3 linked regions of the Homo sapiens genome follow. The protein of the gene in region 1 purifies or fractionates together with the protein of each later gene. This does not show direct contact. Each region holds a gene or a part of one and is shown in the gene's direction. Other genes may lie near its edges.

Region 1 (5,853 bases):
AGCTCATACATATACAATGCTTGGAGCAGAGGCTGGTACTAGAGCTGGCTTCATGGGCATGAAACCTGTGAACACAGAACCCCATGCTTTCATTTTCCACTTAGTCCTGCCTGGCATAGTATGCAGTTTTTTTAATTTGAGATGGAGTCTCCCTTTGTTGCCCAGGCTTGAGTGCAGTGGCGCGATCTCAGCTCACTGCAACCTCCACCTCCCAGGTTGAAGCAGTTCTCCTGCCTCAGCCTCCTGAGTAGCTGGGATTACAGGTGCGCGCCACCATACCCAGCTAATTTTTGTATTTTTAGTAGAGATGAGGTTTTGCCATTTTGGCCAGCCTGGTCTTGAACCTCTGACTTCCATGATCCACCTGCCTCTGCCTCCCAAAGTGCTGGGAGGATTACAGGCATGAACCACTACGCCTGGCCTGGTATGTGGGTTAAAATGTTAGGTTTTATCATTATCTTAGGTGGAGAATAACAAATCCGATTCAATATATTCATTTTAGAAACGAGGAAACTGAAGCTTAGATAGTTTGTGTGACTTGCAAAAAGTCACGCAGCAAACAAGCTGCAGAATGAAGGGTGGAGATGGAGAGATAGAATTCTCATCTTAGAGGTGAAAGTAGGATAATGACCCAGCTGAGCTTGCTGAGTCCTGCGAGCGTCGCACGCCCCCAGAGACAACATAAGGAGAGAAGTGCAGACAGATTCCTTTGAAGGAGCTTAGAGAAAGAGATGGTAGGGAAAAGAGCATGAACAGTTGTAGAGGTAGGAGGAAAGCTGGCTATTTGGGGAAGCAAAGAAAAGATTCTCAGAGTAAAACGTATTGGTGAAGCCATGGAAACAAGGACTGAGAAAGTCTCTTGGATCTTGGCCACAAAAAGGTTATAGATGAGCTTAGAGAAATGAATTTCAGTAGAGTTAGGGCTAGAAGCCAGGTTCAGAGAGAGAAAACGAGAGAGCATTCCTGGTGGTGGAGATGGCCGCAGGCCATTATTTAAAAAGCTAGGATAAGAAAATAGAGAAGAAAGGGAAGGAAGCTATTTGAAGGGAGTGGGAGAAAAGCCAGATCTCAGTTGGGACGTGGAGGAAGGACCACCAGAGGCAGTAATTTAGCCGGAAAGAGGTGTATTTCTTTCCTTGAGTTTATAGGGGGTAAAGAGGATGGGGCTGAGATACTAAAGACTACGAGGACAACTGTTCATTGAGGGCTGGTCATCTCCCCAGCTGCACTGTGGGGTTCCCAAGTCAGACATCCCAGAGGCAATATAGCAGCGTGGACAAGAGCTTACTCGTTGGAGTCAGACCGCCTAGGTTCAACGATGGGTTAGTTAGCCCTTCAGTGCCTCCATTTTCCTATCTAGAAAATGTGGATAACAATGGTTGTTGTGAAGATTAACAGCCATAATCCACGTAAAGCCCTCAGTACAGTGTATGACACACAGCAAGTGTCCACCAAAGGGTAGTTATTATTAACCATAATCCTGGTTCTCTTGTGAGCTGCCTCCTGTGTGTCTAGCATTGGCCAGCACACATGAGGGGGTCCAGTGTTTGCTGCTTAACTAAGTAGCTTCTCAGGAAGTGTGGTCATAAAAAATGATAGGTGATTTAGAAGGTGAGACAGACACAAGGGATGTGTTGCACAGTAAATGCTCCCAGACATGCAATAAATGCTTATAAGCATGCCCTCTGTAATCAGCCCTCTTTAGAGAGTTTCCCTGCCTCATTGCTCTTGGTCTTTGGCAATGGCTACACCCACTGCCCAAGCAAGCAGTATCAGCTGTCAGCTGTCCCCTTGTCTTTTGGATCAGATTCCTTTACAGGGATCTTCCCATTGTTATAAGCTTCAAGAATTGGAGAATGCTTAATGAACACTTCCAAATTCTTCATAGCTATGAGGGGCCAGTGCAAAGGGCGGAAGGAGTTCTTCTGTGTCACAGAAATTAGAGCTGGAGCAGATCCAGCTTGCTATCCCCCCTTCCCCCAGCTTGTGGGTTATTGCAGAATTGTTCACAAAAATTCCCATTGCCTTGGAATTTGTCCAAGCCGAGGGCAGGGATCACAACACAACCTCTCAAGGGAAAAAAGGAAGGCCTGTTGCTTGAGATGGCTCAGAGCACTTTTGGTAGCCAGCCAAGGCAGCTATCACTCATGAAATCTGCCTTCCCCTCCAGCAAAAAGCCAACTGTATAGAACACCACATATAGAGCGCTAAGAATAGCACAGCGCTCCAAGAACATAGTGCACTTGGCCTGCATACAAGTGTGCAGGGCTTAACGAGTCTTTTTACTCTGAAAGCTGGGTGGGTTGGAACAAACAAACAGAAAAATATTTTCCCCAAGTAGCATGCAGAGAGGAAATGAGAGCAAGCACAAGAGAGCACCCTGGCATAGCATTCTCTGACCTGGGCTGCCTTTTCAGGGTATGAGTTGATTCCGCAGGCACCAAGGCATGCCTGTAAGCCCTACAGGGCAGACGCCCTCACCCCAATCATTGGCTTAACATTCACACCAGGCTGAGTAAGCCCCAAAAGTCCTGCCATTGGCTCTGACAGGAATTGAAACCCATCTTCTCCACAATAAATATTTGATTGACAGATTGGCTTCCTTCCTATAAGTATAGAAAGCGAGGGCAGGTTCCATCCAAAGCCGCAGTTCTGGGTGATGAGAGCTCTGAGAGCCCAGAAAAGACCCTGAACCACATCCCACTGTTTGTTGGAAGAAGAAACTCATTTGTGGGTCTGTTCATAAAAGAGTCTGGGAAGATAGTCTCCTTAACAGTGTCTGGATGTAACAGACTATGGGCGGCTTTTACTTTATAACTTTCTATATTGTCTGAAATACAGAATATTAAATATTGAGTTAATATTATATTTACTCAATGTTACTTTTTTTTTTTTTGAGACAGGGTCTTGCTCTATTGCCCAGGCTGGAGTGCAGTGGTGTGGCTCACTGCAGCCTTGAACTCCCAGGCTCAAGCAATCCTCCCACCTCAGCATCCCAAGTAGCTGGGACTGTAGGCGCAGGCCACCATGCGCAACTATTTATTTTCTTTCTTTTTGTAGAAATGGGCTCTGCCTGTGTTGCTCTAGCTAGTCTCAAGCTCCTGGCCTCAAGCAATCCTTCCGCCTTGGCCTCTCAAATTGCTGGGATTACAAGCATAAGCCAATGTGCCTGGCCTCAATGTTACTTTTATGATCAGAAAAACGGCCATCTTATTTGGAAATTATTTTCCTATTCTCAAGTGGGCAAATAGGAGAAGGTTTCAGGCATTTGTTTTGTCTCTGGGAGGGAAGGCACAATGAGGTGGAGTGGACAAATTGCTGAGGCCTTTATGGACAAAGATTCTAAGAAGAACAGGCTTTGGCCATCTCTGGATATTCCCATTCTGCTCCCTGCCACCAGAGAGCAAATGTCGTAGGTCACCACACATCACCAGTCTCTTGCCTAGCTAACCGTAACTCATTCTTTAGTTCTCCTTGAAGGTGTCACTTCTTCCAGGAAGCCATTTCTGTCCCTCCCGAGATGGAGTCCCATGTCCCTACCATTTGCTTCCAGGGCACCTTCTCACAGCACTGCATCATGGTTATCTGCTTATCTGCTGGACACCCCTACTCGACTGAGGTCCTTGAAGGAAGAGAGAGTGTATCACTCATCTGCATAGCCTTTGTAACTTAGTAAAAGTGCCTGACATGCTCACTAAACATTTACTGAGTAATTATTTATTTGGGGGCCTTTTACGATCAGAACAATGTGAAGGACACAAAGATGAAAAAGAAACCATCTGCTTCAAGGTACTTACAACTGAAATGTATCAAACAATTACCCAGAAAGTCAAGCACCAACTTAAGTGCTAAAATAGGGGTCCAAGCAACCAACTTTGAAGATTAGGAAGGTTTTAGATTCTGAATGTTTCTCATTCATTGTGTTTTTGAGTTCAGAATCCCCATACTGGAAGGCTAATATGGGGTATGTGCATACAATTTTAAGGACTCACGTTCTTACAACCTATATTAGAATTTGACGCACGATCTTTCTTCTGTCCTTCTTGCAGTTGCCCTAGGAATACATGCCACTTACTCTTAATTGACGTTTATGAAATACCTTGGCTTCATTTGCTGAAAGGCTCTAAGTGTTGAGCATTGTTACTATGTTACAATGGTTGTTTTATTATTAAAGCAGTGCCAAGGAGGTTACACAACAGCTTGGATCAGGAAGTGAAACAAGGGCGGTGATCCCACTGAAGCTACAGGGGATGGGGATTTGGGACGGTAAAATGTTAATTACCCAAGATGGAATGTGGGCTAGAGTCCAGCGTTGTGCTCCTGGAGATCATTTCGGTCGCAAAAGCTCACTGGCAATGGGTCCTAAGCGTCCTGCCCTCCTCTGGCTGAAATGTTGGATTCACTTCGATGAATGCTGCTATAGGGAAAGAACCCAGTGGCCACCAGCCAGGAGCACACGTCTTGCTCAGCATCAACTATCCTGGAAGATTTCCAGGAGCTGAAGGGCTGTTCTCTTTGCATGCAATAAATTATTCATTTCTAAGACGATTTATTCTGTCTCTCTCTTTAGACTTGATTTCTCCTAGTTTTCCAGCTCTTGAGGACTCTCTCCAAAGAATGAGTTGTAGATGGTTGGTCAGGGGTTGCGAGTGGTGCCTAGGCTTCGCATAAAAGGAGGCAGAAATGTCTACCTTAAAGGGGAGAGGAATGGGTCCTGGGGAGGAAGATGTGGTGGAGGCAATGACAACCTTTCCATAGTAAGTCCCCAACAAAGTCACTTCTAGAAACTGACTGAAGACTTTGAGTTCCAAATGAAACGTTTTTAAGATGCTAGGTTGGCTGACAAGTACATCGTCTAAGGTGGAGGCACTAAAGCATAATAAAAAGAGTGAAGTCTCTGCAGTTTGACCCAGGACCAGATGCCAGGCCCACCAACGACTCTGTATCTGGATGACCTTGGGCAAGTTTTCTAAGCTCTCGCCAGCCTTAATTTCCCATCTATAAAAACTGGATACTGCATTACTCCCAGGTTTAACCAGATAATGTTTGTGAAGAAAGCAGCCCAATACTTGGCACAAAATAGGCAAGGGAGTCACTATTATCGTCAACTACTGGCCAAACAACCAGAGTTGACCCCAAATCCCCAGTAAACAATTAACCGTAGCAGAGCGAATCCGGATCTGACGCACCTATTTGCCCAATAAGGTGCCAGGAAATAACACAGTGGAGTCAAACCAATGGTATTAGCCCTTGTTGATGGACGGGCTTTCTTGCTGTTCCACCAATAGCTTGAAGATTTGACTGGGGAGTGACATCCTGACAGTCCAATGACGCACAACCAGCCCACACTCAGCACTTCGGAGGGGATAAATCAAGGAGCCGGCACGTATGGATTCCGTTATAGGGCAGTACTGGTTGGAGAGAGGAGCTTAGGGAAACAGCGCCGAGGCAAGGCACTAATGAGCTAAAAATAAAGAAAAAAGACGATGGTTGCGCCAAGCGACCTCGGCCGCCATCATGCTCTAATTTCCCCTGAGTCTCTCTGGGTCCTCGACCGAGGAAGCGGCCTCTGGGATGCTGAGGGGGTGTGTCCCCACATGATTGGCTCAGGCAGCTCAGCCAATCCTAGCTCGTTAAACGGGAAGCACTTAACCAATGAGGGGCGAAGGCAGCAACGAGGAATTGGAGGGGCGGAACGACAGCTTGACGGGCACAAAAGCCAGCCAGTGAGAGCCGGAAGCATCCTCCCTGCGGCCAATGGAGTGGGGCTCTGGGCGGGCCCCCGAGTGTTTGTGTTGTGGTTTTGGGGGAGGGATGCGGAGGGGAAAGTTTGTTTATTTTGTTTTTAGTTTT
Region 2 (4,425 bases), on another chromosome or scaffold:
TTCTGTAGATTAAATTCTGTTTTCCATTGAATGTTATCTTAATTTCAGAAAATTTCTGTGCAGGGTTATTTTATTAAGCTCATTTTTTTTTTTTTTTTTTTTTTTTTTTTTTTTTTTTTTTTGGTGAGAAAGGCTCAGCAGCTGATAGACTCAGCAACAGGCAGCCAGGAGCTCTGAGGCTCACAGCTGGCAGTCTAGTTCCACTCAGTCTCTACTTGAGAAATTCTTTCTTTGGAAGTACAGCAGAGGCCTTAGGTGAGTGGCTTGTCTGCTATGGCAGAGATTAGAGGTGCTGACAGACTGCCATAAGTATTAGGCAGTAACAGCAGCAGCTGCTTATATGCATGTGAACAGCTGGGGAATTAATTTGGTATGCATTCTCAGGAGCCACTCATCTGCTGGCAGAGGTAGCAGAAGAATGCCCTTAGTGTAAGTCCTCTACAACCATACACCAAATGTGCTCCCTGCGTTTCAAATTCCATTGTAGAGAGTCTCTGATAATCTCACTTATACCATGAGCCATTCCTCAGTATCTGTCCTCTTCCTGTTAGTGTTCTACAATTCCTTTCTCCTTAATTTTTCTCCGCTTTACAAAATGTCACACAGACAAGTGCATGATACTTAAACAAGCTTTTAAAAATAATGCTCATAAATAGCTTTGGTTCTGTCATAATATTCGTATTTATAAACATTTTAAGTCAATTCTCTTCTTTTATTTTCATTTCAGAAATATCCATGTCCTGAATAAAAGTTGTGTCTTGATTAGTTTATTATGTAACAATTTAGTGTGTTTGACATTTCTAACTTTTATTTCTAACATTTGCTTTATTATAGAACAATAAACATGCAGTGATTGATTTTTCTTACTTCAAGTGGATGAGTGAGCAAGTGACTAAAATCTTCTGTGAATTCTTCAGTGTATGGTGCTTGCCAATGCATCTGAGAATCTAGGGACTTTCTGAAATAGTACTTCCTTGCTATGAGGACTGAAGTTGGATTAGAATCCTTTTCAATGAAGATCAGATGTCCTGAGTAGAATTCTTACTATTGGGTCCTGAATCTTATATTAAATATTCTCTCAAATTCCTTGAGGCATAGCAACTTGAGCTTACCAGTTTAGAAACTGGAGATTTGGGCTGGGCACGGTGGCTCACGCCTGTAATCCCAGCACTTTGGGAGGCCAAGGTGGGCGGATCACGAGGTCAGGAGATGGAGACCATCCTGGCTAACACTGTGAAACCCCATCTCTACTAAAAATACAAAAAATTAGCTGAGGCTGGTGGTGGGCGCCTGTAGTCCCAGCTACTCAGGAGACTGAGGCAGGAGAATGGCGTGAACCCGGGAGGCGGAGCTTGCAGTGAGCTGAGATCGCACCACTGCACTCCAGCCTGGGTGACAGAGCGAGACTCTGTCTCAAAAAAAAAAAAACAAACAAACAAAAAACCCGGAGATATGGTTAACAAAATAGTCAAAGTCACTCTTATAGAAGTTTTGTTTTATTTTTTGTTTTTTAAAATTTTTTTACCATTTTGTAGCTGACAAGTACTGACAATAAACTGCTATAAGCATGTGTAGAAAAAGGCTCACCTTGAGTAGTTAAGAGTAAGGAAAAGGAATAGTGTGTAGCATCGTCTTAGTGGTAAGACTTAAGTTGATTTAGTAGCAAATGGAAGTACTAGTGAACCACATAGATTTCAGAAGTAGGAGTAACAGGTTAGAAGATGTGTCATTTTAATCTTCTCTAGACTTTTTCTTAATTTTTAGAAATGTAAGTGGACTGAACAGAGGAAAACCAAAACACAGCTGGTCAATAATAAGTTAAATTAATTTGACAAACTGCCTGCTATGCATTTCATAGCATTTTAAGGACTATATAAGCAATGGATAAGGCAAAAACTCTGCCTTTAAGGAGATCAGTCATTGGGGGGAAACAGAAGCAAACAAACAAAAAGGCAACATAATAGATATTAATATTAATACAAGAATTTTAAAAGCACAGAGTTCTATAATAATAGGAAAATAGAGGGAATGATTGCTCAACTTTTCTTGAAAAAGAGTCAGGAAAATATTGACCGAGAAGGCAGTCATTGACCTGAGTCTTAAAGAATGAATAAGGTTTTTACAGATGGAGTAGGGTAGGGATAACTTTCCAGGTATAAGGAAGATTTTGTATTCCAGGGACCTTTGAATATTTTAGAATGGCTAGAAAACTTGGTATTATGTAGCACAGAAAAAGTGGTATGACTGAAGAGATAGAGAACTTACCACAAAGGGTCTTGAATGCCATGATACATAGTTTGGATTTTCTTCTGTAGGGAGCAAGGAGTTAGTGAAGGATTTTAAAAGCAACATGACTCTTGGGAGGTAGATTCAATGTGAGACTAATCTCCGAGGTATAGGAAATACAGGAAGGAGGAGCAACAGGTCGGGTAGTGGTGGAAGCAGGTTTGGAAAATGTGATTGGTTTTGTAAACGTTTTTGAGTTTGAAGTGCCACTGGGGAAGGCTTTTGGAAATTTATTTCCAGAGTTCAAGACTGAGCTATCATTGCAGTTTGCTCAGCTATTTACTGAGCTATCTACTGTCAATTTGGATAGTATCTACAGTTTGCATTGTAGATACTGGATACTTGGATTGGCTGGTGCACCCTGTTTATGAGACTCACTGGAGTTTGAAGAGCTGACCACTGGAAAATATCCCTAAGCAGTAGCTGCAATTCCACCCCCACCGAGGAGAGCCAAAACCCTCTTCGTTTTCACTCTCCTGTCCTTGGTCTTAAGCTACTTAAAGCAGCCTTTAGACATAGGGAAAAATTGAAAGCCTCTCTTTTAAGAAAAACATTAGGTACTTCTGGAATAGAGAGTTCAAGAAATTAGGAGAAAAATGAACTTTTGAAGCTTTTTCTTTCCCTTTTTTGTTTACTTCATTCTCTTACTCAGTTTTAAAATGCTGGTAATGGTCTTTTTTTTCTTTTTTTTTTTTTTCTTGGCGATTTTAATGCTTTGGAAAAGATCTCATGGTTTTATCTCCAAAGGAGGAAATTAATTTGATGCCATGGAAATTAGTTTTCTAGTCGTATGCCTTGAATGAGTGAAGAATTTCTTTTTCATGGTGGTACTAAATTTGGGGAAAGCTATAGAAACTTTCATCTGGAAGCTTACACTTTTCCTCTTTTTTGAAAATTTGGTGAGAGACTTGGATATTTTATTATTTTCTGTAAAAGAGTGTAATTTGTTATACAGGTCTAATATTGATCCTTTTTTGGAAGTATGGAAAGAATCTGAGTATAAAGCAGAATTACCTCTGGATGGCATGTATTCTCAAGGACACTGTCACAGTGAAACAGTTTATTTAGAAGCTTGTGTTTCCAAACTGTTGAATTTGATATTCACAAAATTGGCATGTGTAAACTTTATTAAACTTTAAGCTATTTCCTAAGATGAAGATGACAAACTTGGAGGGAAACTTCATTCATTTGGTTTATTTTTATTTTTATTTTTATTTATTTTTATCTTTTTGAGACAGAATCTCACTCTGGTTTGAGACAGAATCTCACTCTGTCCCCCAAGTTGGAGTGTGGTGGTGCGTTCTCGGCTCACTGAAACCTCTGCCTCCTGGGTTCAAGCGATTCTCCTGCTTCACCCTCCGAGTAGCTGGGATTACAGGTGTGCACCACCACACCCAGCTAATTTTTGTATTTTTAGTAGAGACGGTTTCGCCACATTGGCCAGGTTGGTGTCAAACTCCTGGCCTCAAAGTGATCCGCCCACCTTGGCCTCCCAAAGTGGAGCCCCCATGCCCCTTGTTTGTGACCTGTCAATATAAATATGCTCAGTAGCGGGGGGAGGGGTGGGGGGTGAAAAAGGAAATATGTTTAATATTAAGACTTTGGCCTTTTAGTGTAAACTGATATTCAAAAATTTCTTCATAGAACATTTGCTTCTTTGCTTGATCATTTTTCTAATTCTGTACATCTAAAATGCCCAGAATTTGAGTTGCTGTTATAGTCTACTAACATAGAACTTTGGAGTAATAAGATGGGAATTTGTCTCTCTTTTGCCAAGACAAGCATTCATAATCTAACACAGTATTGTTGCCACGAGTACGAGTATGTGATAGACTGTTGAGAATAAAGAAAGCAGGCACAGTTGGTCAGTCCTAAGATAAAGGAGATGTTTTTTCTTATATGTTTGTGCATTAAAGAAAAAAAAATCTTGAATCTGACCAATGATGTTTTTTTTCCTTGTAAGAAAATTTAACAAATGTTTGGCAAGCTTCTGGAATCTAAATTTGAAATTATACATTTGTCATTTTCTTTAAATATTTCTTCACCTTAGCTTTGATTATGAGAAATCACTGTCCTCTGCTGTTCTTTTTTTTTTTTTTTTCTTTTGAGGCGGAGTCTCACTCTGTGCCAGGCTGGAGT
Region 3 (3,834 bases), on another chromosome or scaffold:
CTTCTGGCCAAGGCAGTAGCCACTGAGTGCAGCCTTACCTTCCTCAGGTGGCCAGGGGGCCTGGAAGGGATGGTGGGTGGATCAGGGGCTGCAGCAGGCTGGGGAGCAGGAGGGGCTGCCCAAGAGGTCAATTGTGTGTATGTGCATCTGACGGCTCTCACCTTCTCACATCCTCTCACTCAGCGTGAAGGGGCCAGAGCTCATTAACATGTATGTGGGCCAAAGTGAGGAGAATGTGCGGGAAGGTGAGTGAGCAGGGAGGGGCAGGGCGTCCCATGCTTCCCAAACCCCGATGGCCCCCAAGCCACCCCCTACTCCCAGGCTACTCATGATCATTCCTAATCCTCCTTTCTACAAGTCAGGTTCCTGCCCAGCTGGGTCTAGTACCTGGGATGCCAGTGCTGTATTGTCAGGCCCCAGTTTCCCTCCCTGCTCTCACCTAACTTCAACCCCCCACAAGCCGAGCTTTGCCCTCCTGTGGGCCCCTCTCTCTCTTCAGTGTTTGCCAGGGCCAGGGCTGCAGCTCCATGCATTATCTTCTTTGATGAACTGGACTCTTTGGCCCCAAGCCGGGGGCGAAGTGGAGATTCTGGAGGAGTGATGGACAGGTAGGGGTCTGAGTGGGAATGAAAGCTGAGGGGTCCAGGGTGGGAAGGATATGAGAAAGCTCACAGCAGTCTTCAGAGTCCAGAGATAGAAGTTCCTGCTGTTTCAGTTCTGAGATAATATAATGGAAGCTGAAAGGGGCCATGAAATTGGGCAGGGTCCACTGAGGAGAATGGGGGCCTACCTGGTGGGGCACATTGGGCACAGCTGAGTGGAGGGCCCTGTTGAGACTGCCTGTAAAGAGAGGTACCACAGGCAGGGGCAGAGTCTAAGGGGGACACCAAGGACTCTTGCCCTTGCTCCCTTCTCTCCAGGGTGGTGTCTCAGCTCCTTGCCGAGCTAGATGGGCTGCACAGCACTCAGGATGTGTTTGTGATTGGAGCCACCAACAGACCAGATCTCCTGGACCCTGCCCTTCTGCGGCCTGGCAGGTGGGCCCCTTGTACTGCTCATCTCCACCCTCATTTTGTGCCTCCTTCACCCCTCATGGCTGGGCTCCCTGAAACTTATACCTGCCTATCTCCCTAAAGATTTGACAAGCTGGTGTTTGTGGGGGCAAATGAGGACCGGGCCTCCCAGCTACGCGTTCTAAGTGCCATCACACGCAAGTATGCTCTGTTAGAGGAAGACTGCGAAGGGCTTGGGCCTTGGGATGCTTAGGGGATGCATGCAACATGCAGGATGAGCTGGTCAGCACTGGCTTTCGAGGGAGGAGGTGATGCCAACTCTGTTTCTTCCTGTATCCCACAACAGATTCAAGCTAGAGCCATCTGTGAGCCTGGTAAACGTGCTAGATTGCTGCCCTCCCCAGCTGACGGGCGCGGACCTCTACTCTCTCTGCTCTGATGCTATGACAGCTGCCCTCAAACGCAGGGTTCATGACCTGGAGGAAGGTGAGCCACTTGCCGGTCTGAGAGGTCAACCAAAAAGCTAGTGGGGAGCTGGGTGCACCTGAGTCCCAGCTACTTGAGAGGCTGAGGTGGGAGGATCGCTTGAGCCCAGGAGTTTGAGGCCAGCCTGGGCAACACAGAGAGACCCCAACTCTAAAAAAAATGTTTAAGGGAAAAAAAAAACTAGTGGGAGACAAACCTAGTCCTGGATTCCAGAGGGAAGATCATTGACATCTAGGAGACCCTGAGCAGGAAGCCACCTTCGCAGGGCTCTCCCCTGCCTGGGCATAGACCACAGCCTCCCCACCTTGTCATCTCCAGGGCTGGAGCCAGGTAGCTCAGCACTGATGCTCACCATGGAGGACTTGCTGCAGGCTGCCGCCCGGCTGCAACCCTCAGTCAGTGAGCAGGAGCTGCTCCGGTACAAGCGCATCCAGCGCAAGTTTGCTGCCTGCTAGGAGCCCCCCAGGGTCTGGGACCCCGCTCAGCATGGCTGCAGGTACCTTGATAGCCCACAGAGAGATCTGGGAAGGAAGGGCTCCTCCTCAGGCTGCTGCCAACCCACCTGGAGGCCACCTCCCTCCAGGAGATCCCAGGGTGCAAAGTGGCATTGAGACAGCAGCAACAGCTCAAGAGATATCTCCTGCCTACTTGCCCCTCCTTCCAGGCCGGCTCTAAGAGAAAGGCCCATCTACTCAGGAAGAGGGCCAGGGCCTTGGGTTCTGGGGATTGGGCCCTGAGAGGGCTAGTTCTGTGGCTGAAAATAAAGCATGTCCCGCCCCCTACTGGTGTTGTGGCATGAAAGGTTGGAGTGAGAAAGAGCAGGGTTGTGGGAGGAGTAAGCCCTGGGAGAGGGTGGGGGGGTGGGCAGCATGGGAGCCTGATCCTTCTGACATAAATAAACACAATGCATGCAGGAACTGAAAAAGACTATATTGTTTACCCTTCCGTCTGTGGAACCCACATCCCTGCACCCCAGCTGTAGTCTGCTCTAGAGGCTGGCCCTGGTGTGGGGCTGCTGGTCCCCATCTTCCAGACAGAGCCTAGCAGTGCCTGGGCAGAGGCTTGTGGGAGCTGAGGCCACACTCAGTCTGTCCTCTTGAGCACGTGGATGAAGTAGCAGGGAATGTAGGTTTGGCCTGGCTTGTAAGGCTTGAAGTCGCCCAGGACGCTGTGCTGGCACTTACCTCCGAAGGCTGCTTGGAGCAGCTCCGTGAAGGATGCCAGACAGTGTGGGTAGTAGGAGAGCCGGAACTTACTGTAACAGAGGCCCCAGCAACCATGAGGACTGGTGACCTCAGCTCCCCCAACTACCGCCTCACCCCCACTAAGCCAAGTGGTACCTCAAGCCAGGAGAGCCATCCTGGCCAGCCCCCGGCACCTGCACCGTATAGTCCAGGGTCACCATGTGGGCCTTGTTGTTCACTATCAGCACTGATGTTGTGACGTCCTTGGTCAAGTCACTCTGTAGGTGGTGGGGCAGCCGGCATTAGCCTCTGTAACCCACCTTGGGGCCACTGGACCCTCCCTCCACCCCACCCCCACCCCCACCCCCACCCCCACCCCAGAGGGCCCCACCTTATAGTAGATGTTCTTCCCTGGGGGTGCACAGCCTGTACTGAGGATGTGGTCGTAGTTGCGATGATCAATGACCAGTAGGCCCCCTGCCCGCACCATGCTCGCAATGTTTTTCAGCGCCAGCCGGTGCTCACTCTGGTCCCCTGAGCTCCAGGCACGGGCAGAAAGACTCCATCTGCTCAGGGCCCCCAGCACCAGTCTCCCTCCCATCTCTCCCCTCCCCAGGGGTGCCAGAGCCAAGGCAGAGAGTCTGCTTTGGCAGGAGAGCAGGTGCCAGATGTCTGTGGAAGGGGGCCTCAAGGCGGGGGCCATGCCCAAGGCCACACCCTCTCTTACCTTTGCAGTCTGGCAAGTGAGCGAAACTGTTTCCAAGGCAGATGACAGCATCAAAGCCACCCTCTGCTGACTGGGGCACATCTTTGTCCAGAGTCATCCAGTTGGCTTCTTCGATGACTAGGGGTCAGGAAGAGAAAGAGGAATCAGGGAGGCACGATGGTACCAGTAGCAGCCACCTCCACCAAGTGCAGTCCTGCCTGGGTTTCTTCTTAAGACACACAAGCTCCCCGTTCAGTTAGGGGGAGGAGAAAAGAGGGATCAAGGGAGAAGGAACCCTGGTTGGGAAGGAGGGCTCTGTGCTTATGGGTTTTTCTTTGAGGGGAGGGACAAGATGCCACAAACACAGTTAAAACCAGCTCTTCACACCCGGTGTCTCATTCTGGAGCTTAAGACTTGCTTTTCAGAGAAATGACAGTAATTTTTC

Evidence for each region.
Region 2: the proteins of FAM83F (region 1) and ZNG1C purify together in Homo sapiens (affinity purification with mass spectrometry; one large-scale study listed by BioGRID and IntAct). This does not show direct contact.
Region 3: the proteins of FAM83F (region 1) and PEX6 purify together in Homo sapiens (affinity purification with mass spectrometry; one large-scale study listed by BioGRID and IntAct). This does not show direct contact.

Annotation. Positions count from the first base shown.
Region 1 is NC_000022.11:40,038,987-40,044,839, forward strand, and holds the end of FAM83F (protein FAM83F), read left to right. Parts: 3' UTR 1-4,548; downstream 4,549-5,853.
Region 2 is NC_000009.12:68,269,468-68,273,892, forward strand, and holds part of ZNG1C (zinc-regulated GTPase metalloprotein activator 1C), read left to right. Parts: intron 1-4,425.
Region 3 is NC_000006.12:42,962,455-42,966,288, reverse strand, and holds the end of PEX6 (peroxisome biogenesis factor 6), read left to right. Parts: coding exon 1-47; intron 48-183; coding exon 184-245; intron 246-499; coding exon 500-608; intron 609-920; coding exon 921-1,037; intron 1,038-1,136; coding exon 1,137-1,214; intron 1,215-1,359; coding exon 1,360-1,499; intron 1,500-1,817; coding exon 1,818-1,954; 3' UTR 1,955-2,424; downstream 2,425-3,834. Other genes in the region: GNMT (glycine N-methyltransferase), read right to left, coding at 2,583-2,754, 2,840-2,961, 3,075-3,217, 3,411-3,527; CNPY3-GNMT (Glycine N-methyltransferase-like isoform 1 precursor), read right to left, coding at 2,583-2,754, 2,840-2,961, 3,075-3,217, 3,411-3,527. UniProt on the Homo sapiens protein: Component of the PEX1-PEX6 AAA ATPase complex, a protein dislocase complex that mediates the ATP-dependent extraction of the PEX5 receptor from peroxisomal membranes, an essential step for PEX5 recycling.